Homo sapiens: one gene and its partners. The protein of the gene in region 1 purifies or fractionates together with the protein of each later gene. This does not show direct contact. Each region holds a gene or a part of one and is shown on either strand. Other genes may lie near its edges.

Evidence for each region.
Region 2: the proteins of LRCH1 (region 1) and HEPHL1 purify together in Homo sapiens (affinity purification with mass spectrometry; one large-scale study listed by BioGRID and IntAct). This does not show direct contact.
Region 3: the proteins of LRCH1 (region 1) and SUGT1 purify together in Homo sapiens (co-immunoprecipitation; 2 studies listed by BioGRID and IntAct, with this or other methods). This does not show direct contact.
Region 4: the proteins of LRCH1 (region 1) and POF1B purify together in Homo sapiens (co-immunoprecipitation; one large-scale study listed by IntAct). This does not show direct contact.

The regions. Positions count from the first base shown.
Region 1 is NC_000013.11:46,737,047-46,742,411, reverse strand, and holds part of LRCH1 (leucine-rich repeat and calponin homology domain-containing protein 1), read right to left. Parts: intron 771-5,365; coding exon 564-770; 3' UTR 1-563. UniProt on the Homo sapiens protein: Acts as a negative regulator of GTPase CDC42 by sequestering CDC42-guanine exchange factor DOCK8. Probably by preventing CDC42 activation, negatively regulates CD4(+) T-cell migration.
Region 2 is NC_000011.10:94,104,679-94,109,293, reverse strand, and holds part of HEPHL1 (ferroxidase HEPHL1 precursor), read right to left. Parts: coding exon 4,544-4,615; intron 3,304-4,543; coding exon 3,164-3,303; intron 1-3,163. UniProt on the Homo sapiens protein: Is a copper-binding glycoprotein with ferroxidase activity. It oxidizes Fe(2+) to Fe(3+) without releasing radical oxygen species. May be involved in the regulation of intracellular iron content.
Region 3 is NC_000013.11:52,662,661-52,667,275, reverse strand, and holds part of SUGT1 (protein SGT1 homolog), read right to left. Parts: coding exon 4,574-4,615; intron 4,181-4,573; coding exon 4,164-4,180; intron 3,242-4,163; coding exon 3,219-3,241; intron 1,640-3,218; coding exon 1,543-1,639; intron 465-1,542; coding exon 357-464; intron 1-356. UniProt on the Homo sapiens protein: May play a role in ubiquitination and subsequent proteasomal degradation of target proteins.
Region 4 is NC_000023.11:85,368,726-85,373,340, forward strand, and holds part of POF1B (protein POF1B), read right to left. Parts: intron 1-4,615. UniProt on the Homo sapiens protein: Plays a key role in the organization of epithelial monolayers by regulating the actin cytoskeleton. May be involved in ovary development.

The DNA.
Region 1 (5,365 bases):
AAGGCAGTGTGAGTACGTGTACACGTCCAACTTGGTCAGTAGTGGTATTATTAAAGTTTTGTATAGATCAAGTTGGGCCAAAATGTTAGTTTTCTGTCCTCCCTGCAAGGTGGCCCCTATACAGCTCAATTGCCCAGTCCCGAATTAGAATTCTAGTTCAATACTGACCCAAAGGAAAGACTTCCATATGCTAAATCCCTGTCCTTGACACTCTTGTCCTGGAATTCTCCTCCCCTCTGCCCAGGGCAGCAGCTCACCGGGAGGGAGAGGAGGAACTGCGTGGCACTGCTGCTGGCACTATGTGGATGAGGAAGCATGCGGTGTGCATACACTTTGCAGTCGTCGTCGTTGTATTTCAGTAAGTGAGAGGAATTATACTAAACTGTATTCTACAAAGTTTGTGCTTCTGGAAAATCTGATTTGCTACTGTTCAGCTTCAAAACTCGAGAGATAACTGAAGACATGACAGGGATGGAAGTTTGCAAGGCAAAGGCTCAAAGGTAGGAAGGACCCTGCAAAGGTTGAGGGCGACAGAGCACAGCGTTTGGATGCACGTGCAGACATTATGCGGACAGAGCATTCCAGTGGTAAGTGATATAGACCAGCACTATAAAGAGAATATGGACAAGACAGAAGCCTATAAGGTCCCTGGAGCGGAGGGCAGAAGTTGGTGGTGGGGCTTTCTCCCCGAGTGCCAGCAGAGTGTCAACAGTCTTTCGAATGTGACGAAAATCCAACTGCAGGATGTCACACGGAGAGCAGAGGTCAGCCTATTCCGAGGGCAGCCATTAGAACAGAAAGAGACAGTGCATACAATTAAAAATACACGGAGGAACAGCTAGAAAGAAGCACACATTTTTGGTTACTAGCAAATGGCAGGAGTAACCCCTTATTTCAAGCAGGTAAGACCCTTTCATCATCAAAGATTTTTTAATCCATCATAATAGTAGAATAGAATACCTATTTTGTGCCAATGGGTCAAAGAAATCCTTCACTCACAATCTCGCCATGGAGGAACGGCCTGTTCTGCAATTTACACATCATTCTGCCTTTCACACAGTTTTAATATTCAAGGTATCATGTGCTCATCAGTGGCATAAAAATAAGATTTTCACGTGGGACATTTCAACTTAACCTTACTAAATGAAAAACTATAAAGTTTAAAATGGAATCCCTACCCCCACTCTCCATTCTCTTAGTGCATTTTTTACCCTGGTCTATGTAGACTTGGATATAAAGTAGTTCTCTCTGAAAGTTAACACACACATTTAATTTTTTTTTTCATTTTACGCTTGATAAACTCTGGGCAATGCTAGTTCTAAGTATGTCCCTACATGTGTCAGAAAGTACATTACATTTCATATTTTTGCAACAACACATTAACCAAAAGTCTAGGGGAGGCTTCTTGGATGTGTAGTGAGAGTAGAGAGTAAAAGTACACCCCCACATGGAGTTACTATGTAAATTGCTTCACTACTAAACAGGTATATTGGGGCAGGGGGGGTAGACCTCTGTGTTTTATCTACTCAACAGTCACCATGTAAGGAAGCAGAACACCTATTTCTCAGCTAACTGCAAACTAAGAGGCTCAGTTTTCTGCGTTGACTTTCAGCAGCCTATTGCTGTCAGAAAGCAAACAATTGTCTCACATGCTGAATTCCTGAACCGGAAATGACCACAGTTTAAAATTAACAGGAATTATAATTGATATATTAGCAAGAAATAAAAGCTGTGGTTCTGTTTCCAAATTAAACAAAGATTGAAAATACGTGTGATCTATTTCATAAATGCAGTTTTATTTACAAATTAGGTGAGGCATTTAAGATATATGTTATGTATATTTTACATACTTTGCTACAATTTTGTCCTTTATTTTGGCCTCACTGCTAAGCAGCTGCACATCATGGAGTGACTGAAAGATGTTTCTAAGTTAGAAGTTTTGCCTCACTTGTGTCCTCTGAAGTTAGCTCGATACCCTCAGTTAAGTAGGAATACTACAAAATTAGGTTGGTTGAATAAGATTAAAAACATTCTAATTTTATTTTATTAATGAAGTTAGAGATACTCTTAACAAAATATTTTTAAGATGAATAAATCATGTTATATGTATTCAGATGTTGTATCTTTTCTCAGTGGATCTGGAGAAATCAAGCTACCACTGTTAGGGTTCTCCCAAGAATTAAAACAGCTACACATAAATTGGATTTCACTGGGAGACTGATGCTGCTCATGGATTAATAGATGAGGAAACATCTAAGAAAAGTTTTCTATTGCAATAAGAATTTTCTATTGCAATGTTGTGCTTGACCAGGGAAATCCGAGCAAAGCAGTCATAAGACAGAAGGCTGATATGCAAACTGAAATGTGATTTTCACAAAACTAGTATTTTCATGTTAAAAGCAGATGATTCTATCTTCACCAAGTATTTCAATACATTTCGCAGAACCCTAAGGAACATGTCTGGTCTGCTCTCTGGCAGCACCATCAGAGAACTAGAGTCAGATCAACTTGGCAGTTTTCAGTAGTACACTCCTCATGGGGGCAGGCAACACAGACCATTCTTCTCATCCAGGAAACAATTTCACGATGCCACAGACTCTGGGCTTAATTAAAGTGGGTGAGACCTAGAGTCACAGCCTATAGTGGTTAATTTAAATTAAATCATAATCTCTAAAGAAAAAGGAATGGATCTAAGACTGTCTAGTAGGCAAAAATGTGAAGCACCATGATGATTGTGTGGAGTGTGAGCTGCTGTGGCCATCTGAGAACTGCTCTCTGATTCAACCCTATGTCACATAGCCAACAGTCATTTCAGCCCTTGAAATGGGGCCATGAAGCAAACCAGGGCTAAAATTCCTAATTTCTGACCTGGGAGGTTCTGCCCTTTGTGCTTTCCAAAATTTAGCCTTACTGAGAGGGACGTAGAGATTATACTTTATTTCTTTATGAAAATTAAAATTGGAAAATGCTAAAAAGTAAGGAAATTTAAAGAGGCAAAATTTCACCATGTATTTACAAAGCATTTGTAATCACTGCAAGCCATTTGTAAAACACAGTTAATTCACTAAGAGTCCCCAGAGGCAAGTGCGGATGCTAATGCCCATTATAGTGAACAAAAATCACAATCGCCAGAGGTTAAGAAATTCACTTAGGTTGCACACAACCAGAGTGTGTGACCGAGATTACTACTGGACCAGGTTCCCCAAATACTATGGATACAAAGAGAAAAGTAGACAGATCCAGCAGTTCAGGGTGTACTACAGTCTAAATTCTAAGAGCTAAACATATCTAGGCAGAAGTTTTATTTAAAACTTTGGAATATATTTACTTTACTTAAATATAATCTTAATATAAAAAGTCAATATGCTTACAAAGTATTTTTTAATCTAAAATATCATAATATAAGAATGTTCATGGTCATTCTGCAATATTTAAAGCCATAATTCAGCGATGAGGTATAATTTGGCAGGGAGAGGAGAGAGGTGGGGAAGGATTTCCAGTCTTCTCCAAATATATGACAACTAATTGCCAATTTTATGAACTTAGAGAAAGCTAGGAATAGCTTGGAAATTAGTTGCATTCTTTATAGCTAGAAAAGAGATAGATTGGCTGTTTTCAATAAATTATGAATTTTAAAATTGATGTTAGTAAAACAATGAACCTGTCTTTCACCCTTAGAATTAACCAATATAAATGGAAAATTAAAATAAATCTTGTAATAAGAATCTCATCCTTCCACAAAGTGTTAGTTATGATTTAAATTAACACTAAAGTCATTGACTTGGGGAAGAAAAATAGGTATAAGGCTCAGAGAAGATAAGGGACCCATTTCTCTTATTCTTAAGATTAAAACAAAAAAACAGTAGCTTCAATTTATAGATTGTCTTTCAAAAACAAAAACTTCAATCAGTGGTATGTGTAATTTCCTAAACCCTCACAAGAGGTGTAAAGTGGGAACGCTATTATGACTTTCATATATAAAACCTTTAACACAAAAAATGCGAATATGAAAATTACAAAAGATAAGGAAAACTCAGCCATAATTCCACTTACATTGACACAATCATCATTAGCATCTGAATGTACTTTAGGGTTTTATTTGTAACTCCCTTTGGCTGATGCAGAAGCTCAAGGATGCCAAGTGACCTGCCCTTTTGCATGTGGAATGAAAACTTTCTCCTTCCTCCAGCACTCTGAGCTGCCCAGATAGGCAGGAAGGAGCCCTAAGCTGAAAGGAGGCTACCACTGTCAGCTGAGTTGCTGCCTTTAATCTTCTTCTCTATCTTTTCTCTGGAAACAGTAAGGAAGATGAAGGACTGAACATTTAGACAACAGAGTACATTTCTATTCTAACTCCCCTCATCTAAAGAAGGCAAGTCTGTTAAACTAAGGATCTCATGCCTTACAGAAGTTTGAGATCAAAGTTACCTATTTAAAATTAAGTAGAAAAATTTCCCTGGTGAACCAAATAAATATCTATTTCCTAATTTTTTGATGCTTCATAAATTAGATTTCTCTCAACCTGAGAGAATACTAATAAGAGCCCTAAAATATCCCTAAATTTGGATCCATTTGAAAACCTCCAATAGTCAACCATGAACTGTACCTACCAGGAACATGTAGCCAATCTGCTACATAGAGGTTAGAGGTCAGGAATCTCCAAGAGCACTCAGAAAAGTCAAAGGAAGCCCCAATGTGTCCATTAAAAGCCTCATGGGGTCAAGGCCTAATTGGAGTCAGATTCTTAGGTGACGCAGAAAATATATCCCAAAGAATTTGGAAGCCCACTAAGGCCTGTCTTCAAGACCAAGTTGATGCTTGCACTAGAGGTCGAAGACAGCTACAAAGTCTGACCACTAAGCATCAACAGCACAAAGGGATGTGGGATGGTACCTAATGCTGCTTATAATTCTGAATGTAGCCAATGTGAAAATGCTGCATTTATGAATCAGCCACAACAGAACTACTGTCTTCTACACTACTGTAAAAAGTGGGCTTAAAATACCACCAAGGGTTGGGCACAGTGGCTCATGTCCGTAATCCCAACATTTTCGGAGGCAAAGGCAGGAGGGTGTCTTGAGCCTAGGAGTTCGAGACCAGCTTGAGTAACACAGTGAGACCCTGTCTTAAAAAATCATAACAAATTTTTTTAAATGTCGTGGAGGGATAGTCTCACCCACTAACCTTTACTATTTATTCAGTGAATTTAGGTAGTATACTGCCACAACCTGCACAGACATGTTTCCTGGATATTAGAGAAACCACACAGTGGTTCCAGCTGCAGAAGCAAAGAGAAGTGTGTCATGAACCATGACCCACCCTGGAGCAAATGCCTGGGACTGCGTTTATGGGGACTTCTAAAGAA
Region 2 (4,615 bases), on another chromosome or scaffold:
CATGATTGTCTGCATAGAAAATCCCCCTAAAATCTATAGGAAAACTATTGGAACTAAAGTGAGTTTAGCAAAGATGCAGGATGCAAGGTCAACATGCAAATATCAATTATATTTCTAAATATTGGCAATAAACAACTATAAATCAAAATAAAAACACTATCATTTACACTATTACCAAAGCCTTTTATATACTTAGTTATAAATAAATAAAACAAAGTATATGCAAGATCTCTATATTGAAAACTACAAAATGCTGATGAAAGAAATCAAAGAAGAGCTAAACGATAGATATACCATGTTCATGGATTGGAAGCCTCAATATTGTTATGTCAGTTCTGTCCAACCCATTGTATAGCTTCAGTGCAATACCAATCAAAATCCCAACAGGATTTTAAAAATCAAAATCAACAAATTATTTCTAAAATTTATCTGGGAAGGCAAACATCTAGAATAGCTAAAACAATCACCATCTGATTTTGAGACTTACTATAATACTAAAGTAATCAAAACATTGTGGCATTCAAGAAAGGGCAGAGTATAAACCAGTGTAACAGAAGAGACCGCCCAGACATAGACCCACATATATGTGGTCAATATGATTTTCACAAAAGTAAAGAGTCAATTCTGTGGGAAAAAAAGATGATCTTTTCAATGAGTGGTGATGGAACATTTGGACATATATATGAAAAAAAAATGAACCTTATTTCATATCTTGAACCACATATGAAAATTAAAATGTATCAGAGCCCTAAATCTAAAACTATACCACTTCTAAAAGAAAACAGAGACCTTTTTTGGGACCTTCAGTAAGGCCAAAATTTTTTATACATGACACCAAAAGTATGATCTATAAAAGAGAAAAAAGAAAAATTGTACTTCATTTTACTTCATCAAAAATTAAGAACTTCTATTTGAAAGCTGTTAAGAGAATGAAAAGATAAGCCACAAACTGGAAGCAAATATTTGTGAGTCACATCACTGAAAAAGGATTTGTATCCAGAATATATAAAGCCCTCAAACTCTACAATAAGGAAACAAGTAACCCAATTTTTTTAAATGGGCTTACAATTTGGACACTTCACCAAAGATTTACAGATGACAGATGGTAAACAAACACATGAAAAGATGCTCAATATCATTAGCCACTGGGAAAATGTAAATGAAAAACAATGAGATACCACTATATCCCCTCCCCAAGGAGGGAATGCCTAAGGGAAAAAAATGAAATAAAAACTAAAAATACCAACTGCATATGTGGATGTGCAACATATGGAGTTCTCGTATATTTCCTTGGAAATGCAAAATGATACTGCCTTTTTGGAAAACAGTTTGGTGGTTTCTTATGAAATCAAACATACACTTATCACATGGCTTAGCAATCCTACTTCTAGGTATTTTCTCAAGGAAAATGAAAACATATGTTCACACAAAAACATGTGCACAAATGTTTGTAATGACTTGATTTGTAATAAACAAACTTGAAAATAACTCAAATGTTCCTCAACAGGAGAATAGATAAACAAACTGCATTATATCCTTACAATGGAATACTACTCAACAGTCACAAGAAACAAACCACTGATACACATAACAAGATGGATACAATTTGAATGCCTATGTTAAATCAAACAAGCCAGATTCAAGATGCTACAACCTATGATTTCCACATAACCTTTCAAAAAAGGCAAAACTATAGAGACAGTGGTTGACAAGTGTTAAGTATGGGGAAGTAGTTGACACTAGAGGGTGCAATGGTAAAATTTGTGGGGGAAATAAAAGTATTCTATATTGTGATTGTTGTTCGTTACACTACTGTATGTGCTTATCAAAAGAGAACTGTACACTAAATATGGTGAATTGTATTCAATGTAAATTATATCTTATTTTTAAAGTGTATATGTAAATTTTTATAATTTTGTGTATTAAATTTTATAAATTTTTAATATAATTTTTAAAATGTGAGTTTAAAAAAGCCAAATTCTGAAAAGCAGCATAGCCATTTAATATGTGAAACTCTAATCATAGCAGGCTAATACTTGGTGTCGTAAACAACGTTGAAATATACAAAGGAGAAAGGATATTAAATGTTTTATTAAAGTTACCGTTTATTCGTGTCTAACTAGAAAAGATCAATTCCAGTTTTCTCCACACATTGGATATGATTGTTCTTTTCTATTCCACTTCCTTGTAGAAAGCACTGAGAACTTCGGATGACAGACTATTTGGACCTTTCCATGGAGATTCTGATTCAGCAGGTCTGGGTCGGGCCTGGCAGTTGGGTTTTTACATAGTTCCCCAGATGGCTCTGCTGTACAGTGAGCACCACCCATATGGTACAGCTTGATGCTAGAGGGTAGAAAGTCACACATGGTCCAGCCCAGCTCACTAGGGCAAAAGTCAAGATAAAGTTTCAGGGCTTAGGCCAGAGCTCAAAATAGCTCCTTTACTGGATAGAGCTATTCTGTTAGCTAATCACACAGAAAAAGAAAAGGGTGGGGAGAAGGAAAGGGAAAGAAAAAAGGAAGGGTGAGGAAAAGGGACGAATGCTGTCAGTGTCCGTGGTTTCATATACAATATTAACAGCATATTCCAGGGTGGTCAGAGTTATCCCCAGATCACTAATGAGAAAACTCTCACCTGAGGCTTGGAGAGATTTTTATAAGCACAATAATATACATATACATATTAAGAAATAGCCAGGCCTGGCGTGGTGGCTCACGCCTGTAATCTCAGCACTGTGGGAGGCCGAGGCGGGCAGATCACGAGGTCAGGAGATTGAGACCATCCTGGCTAACATGGTGAAACCCCGTCTCTACTAAAAAATACAAAAAAAATTAGCCAGGCGTGGTGGGACACACCTGTAGTCCCAGCTACTCGGGAGGCTGAGGCAGGAGAATGACATGAACCCGGGAGGTGGAGCTTGCAGTGAGCTGAGATTGTGCCACTGCACTCCGCCCTGGGCAACAGAGCAAGACTCCGTCTCAAAAAAAAAAAAAAAAAGAAAAGAAATATCCACCAGGGAAACGGTACAATCACATTATTCTGTTCCATTCTCACCTATCCTCACAAGCATTATTGCCAAGTAACTCTTATTTTCCACTGGAAATACATTGAATTTGTTAGTTCAAAAACGTCTTTCCCAAAGCACTTTCCTTATACTTACTTTGAAAAGAAAGCTCTCAGCATGATAATGGATGGTATGTATGTCCACTTCACTTCCTATCCCTAACAAATACCAGTTTGTCATTGTATCTTCGTTCATTATGAGGCCATGGAGATTCCCAAAAATCTTTCCATTAATGGCTTTAAAAGGTGATAAGAAAATAACCTTTGGTTAGTTAAAAGATAAGCTGATTTTTTAAATGTTTCCAGAAGATCTTTAGGTCACTGATATTTTCATCTGTCTAGTAAACATGCAACAATCTCACTCACCCCTAGCAGTGTCCTACCATTCTAGACCCAAAATTCAGATAACTGAGAAATCCTTCTACAAAGAGAGCGAGAACAGAGAAATAGCAGTTTTAAAGCCGTATCTTGGTGGCAGTGTTTTGTTTGTTTATTCAGCATAATCTCTTTATGAAGGGAAATACAGTCTCATTGGAGAGGTAGTCAGATTTATACCACTCTACAGAGAACAAATCAAGGCATAAACAAGTTTATGTAAATAAAAATTGAGTGACTTAGAAGGTATTTTCTTAATATTTCACTTGTTGAGAATAGTTTAAGCCTGGCTGAATCTCCAAAAATAAAAGAGAGCTTCACACGGGCTGAGCTCATGACCTAACAATGACCAAAGCAAACTGAGTTTACATGATGGTGACTCCCACTCCTCCACTGTCTACTGACTTTTGATTCTGTGCATTGTGGTGCAACCAAATGACCTGCATTCATTAAAAATGGAGAGCATACTAAGACATCTTTAGGAGAAGAAAGCAAAACTGGTAGGGGAAAGAGTAGCTGAATGGGGAATCAGGCTACTATATTCTAATCTATATTAACAAGTAGCTTTGTGACCTTGGGCAAGGCCTTTTTGTGCACTTTTGGTCAAAAATAGCTGTTGGTGAGAAACTGTGGATGTGTCAATGTGAACACATTACTCCCACCAACAAACTACCTTAAATTATGTAGAAGTAACACAGATACATTAAAACAGAAATTTGATGGTAGTGTTTCATATCCCAGAGACAATTAAACCTGGCCCTTAAATTTAAACAAATAGAAGTTATGGCATATTCTTATAAAAATATGACAATAAATGATGATTTGTTTTTAAAGAATTACTTTACAGTCTTAGAGCTTAGAGATCCCAGGATTCAGAAATACATGTCCCTACAAGTTAGTACAAAGCCTCAATGACTTTGCTGCCAGCCAATCAGTGGCTAGGCTGGTTCAGTCTGAAGGAAAGCATTAGAGGACTTTCTTCAGTCCAGGTGCCCCTGGGAAGGAGGAAAGGCTCAGAGAAGGATGCTGGGAGCCTCCTACATTTACAGGAATTCCTATGAGCTTATCTCAACATAGGCTTCTTTTTAAACTTTGGATATACCATGCATTCTGTTGCTTTCCTCAAAATCATCAGTGCGCTTAAAATCTCGTGGATCTTTGTTGAGATACTTCT
Region 3 (4,615 bases), 5.9 Mb from region 1:
TTGTACATCAAAACAGACAAAACTGACAAGTTCAAGGGAAGAGACATTGTCAGTATCAAATCTTAAAGACAGGCTGATTATTGTATCTTTTTAAAAAAACCCCTTTATTGAAAAACATTATATCTGTCTTAGTAAATACACAAATGCCACACACTCTAAGTGGATTTTTATTCTTTACTGTACTAGAATTTGAGAGGTAAAATAACCCTTATACTCAAAAGTTATCATTCTTATTTTCTTGTCCCTGTTAAAGGGCTGAAAGAATCTACAAGCTTATAAACACATGGGTGATTAGTTCACCAGTATTTCTATAATTTTGAAAATATTACTAGTAACAAACTTTTCAATGGTCTTACCTTTGTTGAAAGTACTTTAAACGTGCTCTGTTCTGGTATTATAGGATGAAGAAGTTCCAGTTTCAAATTGTAATCCTCTCCAGAAGGAAGTTTAACCAAAGCAGACAACTAATGAACACAAAATTAGCATCACATTTTGTAAATGTATATAATGGAGGGTAAAAAACCTACACAAAATAATGACAAATCTTCAATAATGTTACAAATTATTTTAAACATTATATATGGAATTTTAGATTTAAGAACCTCAAAAGGTTCTCAAAGATTTAAGAACCTTTTTTTTCCATCTGGTATCCTTGACATGAATTCTTATAGACATCATTAAACAGCAGAAAAGAATAAGTTTCATAATATTTGTCATATATTTAATCACACCTATTTGATATTTAGATTTCAAGAAAACATACAAAAGCAAAATGATATATAACAAAAAGTGATCCATGTGCAAAACATACAGTTCTATCACTACCTCTTTTAAATAATCTATTATAAGGTTCTCTACTAAATGGTAAGAAATCAAGTTGTTAAAAGTCATACTCAAGAGGCTGGGCACGGTGGTGCATGCCTCTAATCCCAGCACTTTGGGAGGCTGAGATGGGTAGATCACTTGAGGTCAGGAATTCGACAACAGCCTGGCCAACATGGTGAAACCCCGTTTCTACAAAAATTAGCCAGGCACGGTGGCATGTGCCTGTAGTCCCAACTACTCAGGAGGCTGAGGCAGGAGAATTGTTTGAACCCAGGAGGAGGAGGCTGCAGTGAGCCGAAATTGCGCCACTGCACTCCAGCCTACGCAAGAGCGAGACTCTGTCTCAAAAAACAACAACAAAAAAAGTCATACTCATTTAACATGGCTAGTCAATTCTAAGACATGTGTGATCACAAAACTAACTAGATCTTTTTCATGAAGTACACCACACAAGTATAACCAAAGCACATTATCTTACTAATATAACCAAATTCTGCTTTAAATTTCAAATCTAAAGAAAAAAATGCACATCCAGCTATAATTTACCAACATACATATTCTTACCTCAAAGCAATGGCTTCAGATTTTATTCAACATTTTCCAAATCATCTCAGGAAGAAATAGCATTTATCTGATAAACCGTTATCGATTATTCTGCAATATACTAAATTTGCAAATAATAGTAATCAACATTGAAAAATGATTCAGTCTACTGACCTCTTTTTCTGAAAATTCCACATTTACATCATTCTTCTGAACATTCTTGATCATAAGTGTAATGACTACTTGAGATTCTGTTTGATACCAGTCATACCTATTAAAAAAAAAAAAGAAACTTAGGTAACTCTTCTAATTTTTTTAAAGCTATTGTCAAAACAAAAACTAGTCTGATAAACAACAAGAGCCCCACCTGGAGGAAGAAAACAGCAAAGCAACTACTGATTCACAGAAACAACTTTATATAACTAGTTTTTTATGCTCTGTACTAATGGAAAAAAATGGTAAGGTAAATGATGCTCACACCTTTCCAGTAGACTTAAATACTTGCATGATTTTCTGGGTTCTGACTCATCTCTAGCACTGTTGTGCTTAAACTAATATAAATATTAAAGATGTCATTTATTTTAAACAAGCTAATATTTATATGCCATCAATAGAGTTTTTATACTCTCATTTCATCCAAATACTACAGATAAACACTTAAATCCCTATTTTACAGATGATAAAACTTAAGCTCAGAAAGGTGAAGCAATAAGCCTGAGTCAACACTCCAAGCTCTCAAAACTGATGTTGGAAGCAGATAGACTTGAGCACACAAAACAGGGGCAAATGAACTAAAATTAAAATCATATGAAGTTTAACTGTGTCAGGCACAACATCATATACAACACTTTCCTTCAATTTCAAGATACATGGAAAGACTAATGGGTCTAGATTCTAATTATGTGCATCTTTTGTACTGAAAGCTCTAGAAACGTAGGAATCCTCACTTTCAAATTAGACTAGATTAAAAGCTCTCTGAGGGCAGAGCTGTTTATCCTGTCGCTATTATATCCCTAGGACCAAGCACAGTGTCCGGTACACGTATATTAAGTTAGATGTGGGATTATTTTATGCTCTGAACACCTTAATTATTATTTCATGGTTATGTGCCCTACCCCTGCTGCTGCCACCAGGGCAAGTCAAAGTTCCTTATCTACTAGGTACTTGGAGTTTCATCCTGTATCTCCCCACAACTACCATGAATAGATGGTTTTTAACTTTTCCAGGCCATTTTAGGTAATTATATCCAAAACCACCTTGATTAAAGAAATGAACTTTAAGAGTCTCGGTTTCCCTTTGCAATTCAGTAAGGATGCAAAGCTCCAGATCAACGGCTTGTGTTTCTGTTACGGTCCTAAGAATACAAGCTGTACACAGGCTAATGAATAATTAAAAGTCAAAGACTTGCTAGTTGCTTATTCATTATTATAATTGCTGCCCTCAGCAATATTAACTTTCAACGCATACAGAATGTTCCTATGAAAAATTTGCTCCAAATATAAAAGGCAGGTTAAGTTACAATTCTGTTAGATCTACTACTAACTTGTTTACCTGTGTAGTAACATAAACTTAACTGGAAGAGACTCTCCTTAACATATGGAAAGGTAACATAATATGAAACCAAGTGAAGCAACTTTAAAGATGAGAAATGATTTGAATTTAACTGAAGTACAAATATTAATCCTTAAACAGCCTTAAAATTGGCTTTACATAAAGCTATTACACAATTTTAGAAAACAAACAAAAACTTAAAAATCACATGGTAAGAATTTGCTTACTATTAAACTACAGGGTTTCTTCCTCTTTAGGCATATTTATCATGCATTGTTTTATGAAAAAGAAACACTCACTTGATTTTTGACTGATGAGTCCACTGGGATGCAGATTGATTTTGGTAAGTTGAAAGAGAAAGATTTTTACAAGTCAGTTTAGCAACTGTATTATTAAAATGCATGTATTATTAATTTACCCAACACTGCAGTTATTTTGATATAAAATAACTACATGAAAATTTTCTTCAAAGACATAGTAACTGTAATTGTTAAATACCACTAGTTTTCGGAAAAAAATTAGAATGCTCAGCATTTAAAAAATCTTAGATTGAATTTCATAAAAGATTTTTGCTCTAAAATAACAGAACTTTAAATAACAGAAAACTTCTAAAGGCATGATTAGAAAAGGTTGCTTATATAAAATGGCCAGTTCTAAGATTCAGCAACTTCCTAAACTAAAATAACATTGTTTTAAAAATCGTTTTAAAGAAACAGAGTAATTAGCCAGGCTTGGTGGTGTACATCTGTAGTCCCAGCTACTTGGAAGGCTGAGGTGGGAAGATTGCTTGAGCCCAGGAGTTTGAAGCTCAAGTGCACTATGATGGCACCACTGCACTCCAGCCTGCATGACAGAGCAAGACCCTGTCAATTTCCAATTTTCTTTAACTTTTGTCTTAGCCTATCATAAAAAGCCCTACAAGTGATTCAAACTGTTGAACCTAAATAAATGCAATAAGGTTTTAGTAACGAAAAGATAAATGATCATCATGACCATATTAAAACACACGAAATCAACTTTAACCACACACTAAATTCATTAAAATAGGCCAATAATTTTCATGACTGGAAACTTCTATATTTATCAAAAAATGATTTTATTTCAGTGCCTAGAGGAACCAGCACTTAAATGGAATTGCTTAATATTTAAATATCAGACAGCTCATCCTGAGTCTTGTCTCAAATATATTTGGTAGCTGAAATTTAAAATAATAAAAACATGAAGAATGAAAACTTTGGACTTACCACCTCAGATTCTGAGCCTATTAAAACATAAAAAGGAAACATTTTCAGGGAACAGTGCATTTTTAAGCAAAGTTATTTGTATGATTTCTATAGCACAAACATACTGATTAAGCAAGCAAATTCTCCGTACCTTTCAACTAAAGAAAAGTGGTTTCATTTTGCATCCTGAATTCATTTTAGACTCCTTAGTAATTTCTTACTGATATACCATACAAGCAAATCCACCCAAATCCCCCTTTCAACATAAGAAGCTATGCAAAAACCAGTGTATCTTTGGAAGTCCACATCTAAGGAAACGTATACTATTTAAAAGAAATTATAAAGATAAAAACAAATTTGTTTAAACCAAAAAAATTTCAGATGTTTACTTCTTTTTAAATTGAAACAAATACCAAGGGAGACCCACATACCATTCTGAGCTTCTTGACACCTTTTAATCCAGACACTGAAAT
Region 4 (4,615 bases), on another chromosome or scaffold:
TAAAATGATCAATCTGTCCATCATGCTGGCATTGTTTACATATTTCCTCAAAACCAACAAAACTGCAATCACTTCATTAGTGTGCAAAGAAATGATGGCGTTACTCAATCTCCCCATACCTTACCATAATTTACAATCAATTGGCACGACTCCATTATATCTTCCTACAAAGGTATAAATATTTTTTCTGTAGAACAAGGGAACTATTAAAAATCAGAATCATTAATTTACAAGGGAAACACTGACAGACTCATACAGAACTATAGCTATAATGTAGGTGTTACATGTATTCTTAAAACAGGACTATGCATTTACTCAAACTGCCAAATGTTCTGAATTCTTTCTTGTTGTTGCTGTTGTTGAACTTGTAACATTTTCATCCTCCACCACCCTTTATATCAACAGCAATACTGCAGGCTCAGTATTTCTAGGAATCTTTTGCATATATTCTCAGATTTTCTGCTAATAATTGAGAAGACTTGCTCAGACAAATGCAGAGAATTACAGATTATAGACAAAACAGGTACACATTATCCAGTTTAGGAAAATGGTTATAAATACAACCATGTGCAGGCAGGTTTGGCCCACAGACCCAAGAGGAGCAGATTCAAGAAGACAAGAAAAAAGAGGGGTGCTCTTTAGTTATGGAATAACACATGAACACATTCTTAATATAAACATTTATATAGATAAGGTTAAAGACCTTCTCTTGACCATCTTTCCTCCATTCACTTACCCAGAAGTGACTATTGTTGTCAGTTAAGATGTCTTTACATATATACCTATGTATAAATAGTAATATTATTGCTTTCATTGTTCTACAACTTAAACCAAACAGTATCTCTTGTATTATGTACTAGATACATGTTTTAACTCATTATTTTCAATTAATAGTATTCCAAAATGCTTGCTTTATAGCTTGTTTTTATGTTTTCCTGCTGATTAACATTTATATTGTTTCCAGGTTTCCACTGTGCTGCAATGAGCATCCTTGTGCAACATGTTTCTTTAGAATCCCACACAGAATTGGGATTGCTGGGGCATGGAGTATGTGTGTTATTCATTTGAACAGATACTGCCCAACTAATTTCCCAAATTTGACTATGATAATTATACATCCACCAGCAGTGTGTGAAGGTATTCATGTCTAGAGGATGTTTGGTCTGTTTAGGCTGGGGCTAATAATATTATACTAGTATCATTCTGAGAAGACAACTATACACATGGTTAGTATCTGGTAGCTGTTGTAGAAATGATAGCTCTGTCCTTCTTGTAACCAATTCAAATATGATGGCATTAGCAAATGAAACATAGCAAATCTTACTAGCCAACTGGACTAGCTTTTAAGATACAAAAGCGTACTAAGAAGTTTTATAAATCTGCAGAAATTTAAACAAATAGGAATACACACACATCACACATCACAGATAAAGACATTTATTTATGCTAGTATAAGCAGTATTACTTTATTCAGATGTTAAGATAATAGATGTTTAAATGGCAAACAGTTGTATTTGAGCAAAGACTAGTCTTGCCCTAAAATGAAGGAATTCTTTAATCTTCTTATATGTGGAAAGCTGGAACATTAAGTCCATAGATTATAATGTACTCAATTATTTTTAGCCCTACTTCAGCCTTCATTATTAAAATTGATCATCTAGACAAATGTGGCTTTCCCACGCAACCCTCATGGAAACATTAGAGAACAAATATAATAGGTTCAAAAATTACAACATTAAGATGTAGCTTAATATGAGTCAAAGATATTTAGACATATGGTGTTGAACAGCATGAATTTAAATTGCATCAGTATGGATTTAGGCTGATCATAAGGGGGAAAACCTCTCTGAAAATAGGTTTATTAATTCCAGAAATACTTGCTAAAGAAAACCCCTTTTCCCTGGAAGTCTACAAAATTAAGTAAGATGGTGTGAGTAAATGTCCAGAATGAACAAAACCTTGATGTTGAAAGGTACTTTCAATGGCATCAAGATCTAGGCAAGATTGCAGCAAGTCATCCCATAAATAGCCATTGACCATTCCATAGAAAGTGATCCAAAATATTTTTGAAAGAATGAATGAAAAGGAGATCTTAGTTTTAAAAGCACTCCAGGAATAACAATCCAAATCTCCCTCTTAATAACCTGTATCAGTCAGTGTTTAATTTTGTTACTCATCTGTGTATAGCTTACCTAAATCCTTCATGTTGAAACTATTAAATTCAATGAACAGTCAATGTTTTTGTTTTTATGCCTTTTGTGCCACAGCCCCACATTCCTGATGACCAAATAATTGAAGGCGATAATGGGGTGGTGGTGGTTATCATGACATAGTGGAAAAAGTGCTAGACTTGGAGTCAGCAGACCTGGATTTTATTCCCATTTATACTACTAGCCACTTTTGTAATACTGGTCAACTCATGTTCTCTCTCTGAGATTTGTTTCCTCATGTGAGAAATGAGAAATGGGATATGGGTGTGGGCGAGTGTGGATTAGAGGATCTTTAAGTTTGTTTCTGACGTTCTGTGAATATAAGAGACCATTCCCAACTTATTTTTCCATACAAACAAAACAATTTCAAATTTTTTAAACTTGTCAGTATTGTTTTCCTTTTGATGATGATTATAATGATGACTAACACCTATTAATAGCTTTCTGTGCCAAACATGTTACATAGATCATTCTCTTTAACACTCAAAATAACCCCATAAAGAAGATACTATTATAACCCCATTACATAAACAAGTGAAGTTAGACAGAGGTAGGATAGGTAACCAGATGGAGATTACACAGCTAATGCTAAGGTGCTGGAATTCCAACTCAGCATGACTCCAGAACTCATGCTCTTAATCACCATATTTTGCCACGTTTATTGCTTGCTTCATTATATTTTCTGTTTTTCAAGTTGTGTAACCTAATTATATGGTTAAGTTTGACTAGTCCTTATAACAGAAGGTCAAATACTGGGACTTTTAAAATTATTCAGTGTCAAAAGCAACTTTGGAGGCCTGAAAATAAGACACCCACCCACAAGTAGCTGTGTGAGAGAACAGCCTTGATTAGATAATTTAAGTTTCCATAAACTCAATAGAATTTGTAAAACGCGTGGTACATTTACAGAGTGTACTCACAAGCCTCTAAAACTCAATAAACCATTGAATTTTTGTTTAATGCTCATATCATCTAATCTCTTCAATTTTGCAGGAAGACCTTACTTTTTCTGATAAAATATTCAGCATTTTGTTGAGTCGTTTATTCCTGTGGGTCAGACTTGCTATATACACAAACATTATACTTTATTGGCAACTTTAAGTAGAGTCTGGTGAAAAAGAATTTGGGGCCGGGCGTGGTGGCTCACGCCTGTAATCCCAGCACTTTGGGAGGCTGAGGTGGGCGGATCACGAGGTCAGGAAATCGAGACCATCCTGGCTAACATGGTGAAAACCCGTCTCTACTAAAAATACAAAAAAATAGCCGGGTGTGGTGGCGGGCGCCTATATTCCCAGCTACTCAGGAGGCTGAGGCAGGAGAATGGCGTGAACCTGGGAGGCAGAGCTTGCCGTGAGCCGAGATCGTGCCACTGTGCTCCAGGCTGGGCGACAGAGCGAGACTCTGTCTCAAAAAAAAAAAAAAAAGAAATGAAAAAGAATTTGGTTTATAATTATGTGGGCTTGGGGATAATTTCATTACATCACTTGAGATAATTGTCCATACCTTTGTACACACTAAATCTGAGCTAGGAAACTCTGGTTTCCCTAGAGAATTCATTATTCATAAAAGTATATCTTATTTCCACCTATTTGTTAAAAAAGCTGTTTTCAGGGGAACATCACACACAGGGGCCTGTCAGAAGATGGGGACCTAGGGGACGGATAACATTAGGAGAAATACCTAATGTAGGTGACGGGTTGATGGGTGCAGCAAACCACCATTGCCCGTTTATACCTATGTAACAAAACTGCCCTTTCTGCACATGTACCCCAGAACTTAAAGTATATATATATATAAATATATTTTATTCATATTTATATATATTATATTATATATACTATATATATATATACTTTAAGTTCTGGGGTACATGTGCAGAAAGGGCAGTTTTATATATAAGCTGTTTTCAGAGTTAAATCAGATGATGTGCAAATGGCCTAAATGTCTCAGTTATTTACTTTAGTGAAAATGCTTTTGAGTAGCTCAGTGCAGTAAAGAAAGAAGGGAAGGCAGAAGCTCAAAAGGTGTTATTCTCCTTTGAAAGAAAGAAAACCTTAAAAACTTAATATATACCCTGAATTCTAGGATTATTTCTGAGCAAGACCTTGAAAACTAGAGGGAAAACTATTTTTGTCCTCTAATGTATTTTTGATATTTTCCATTCTGATAATGGAACATTAGAATGGGAAAATATACAGTAAGGGTAATCATCAAATGTTTTGTTGAAATAAAAAATGTGAACTAATTTAAACTGAAATCATGAATATCGAAAGTTAATTAAGGGAGATAGCTGATGTAATGAAAATATCAGGAGCTGGTTTTTAAACTCAGGGCATTCACTAACCAGCTGTACTAAATAGGCAAGTTATTTTGAGCTATTCGAGTCTCAATTTCCTTATTTGTTT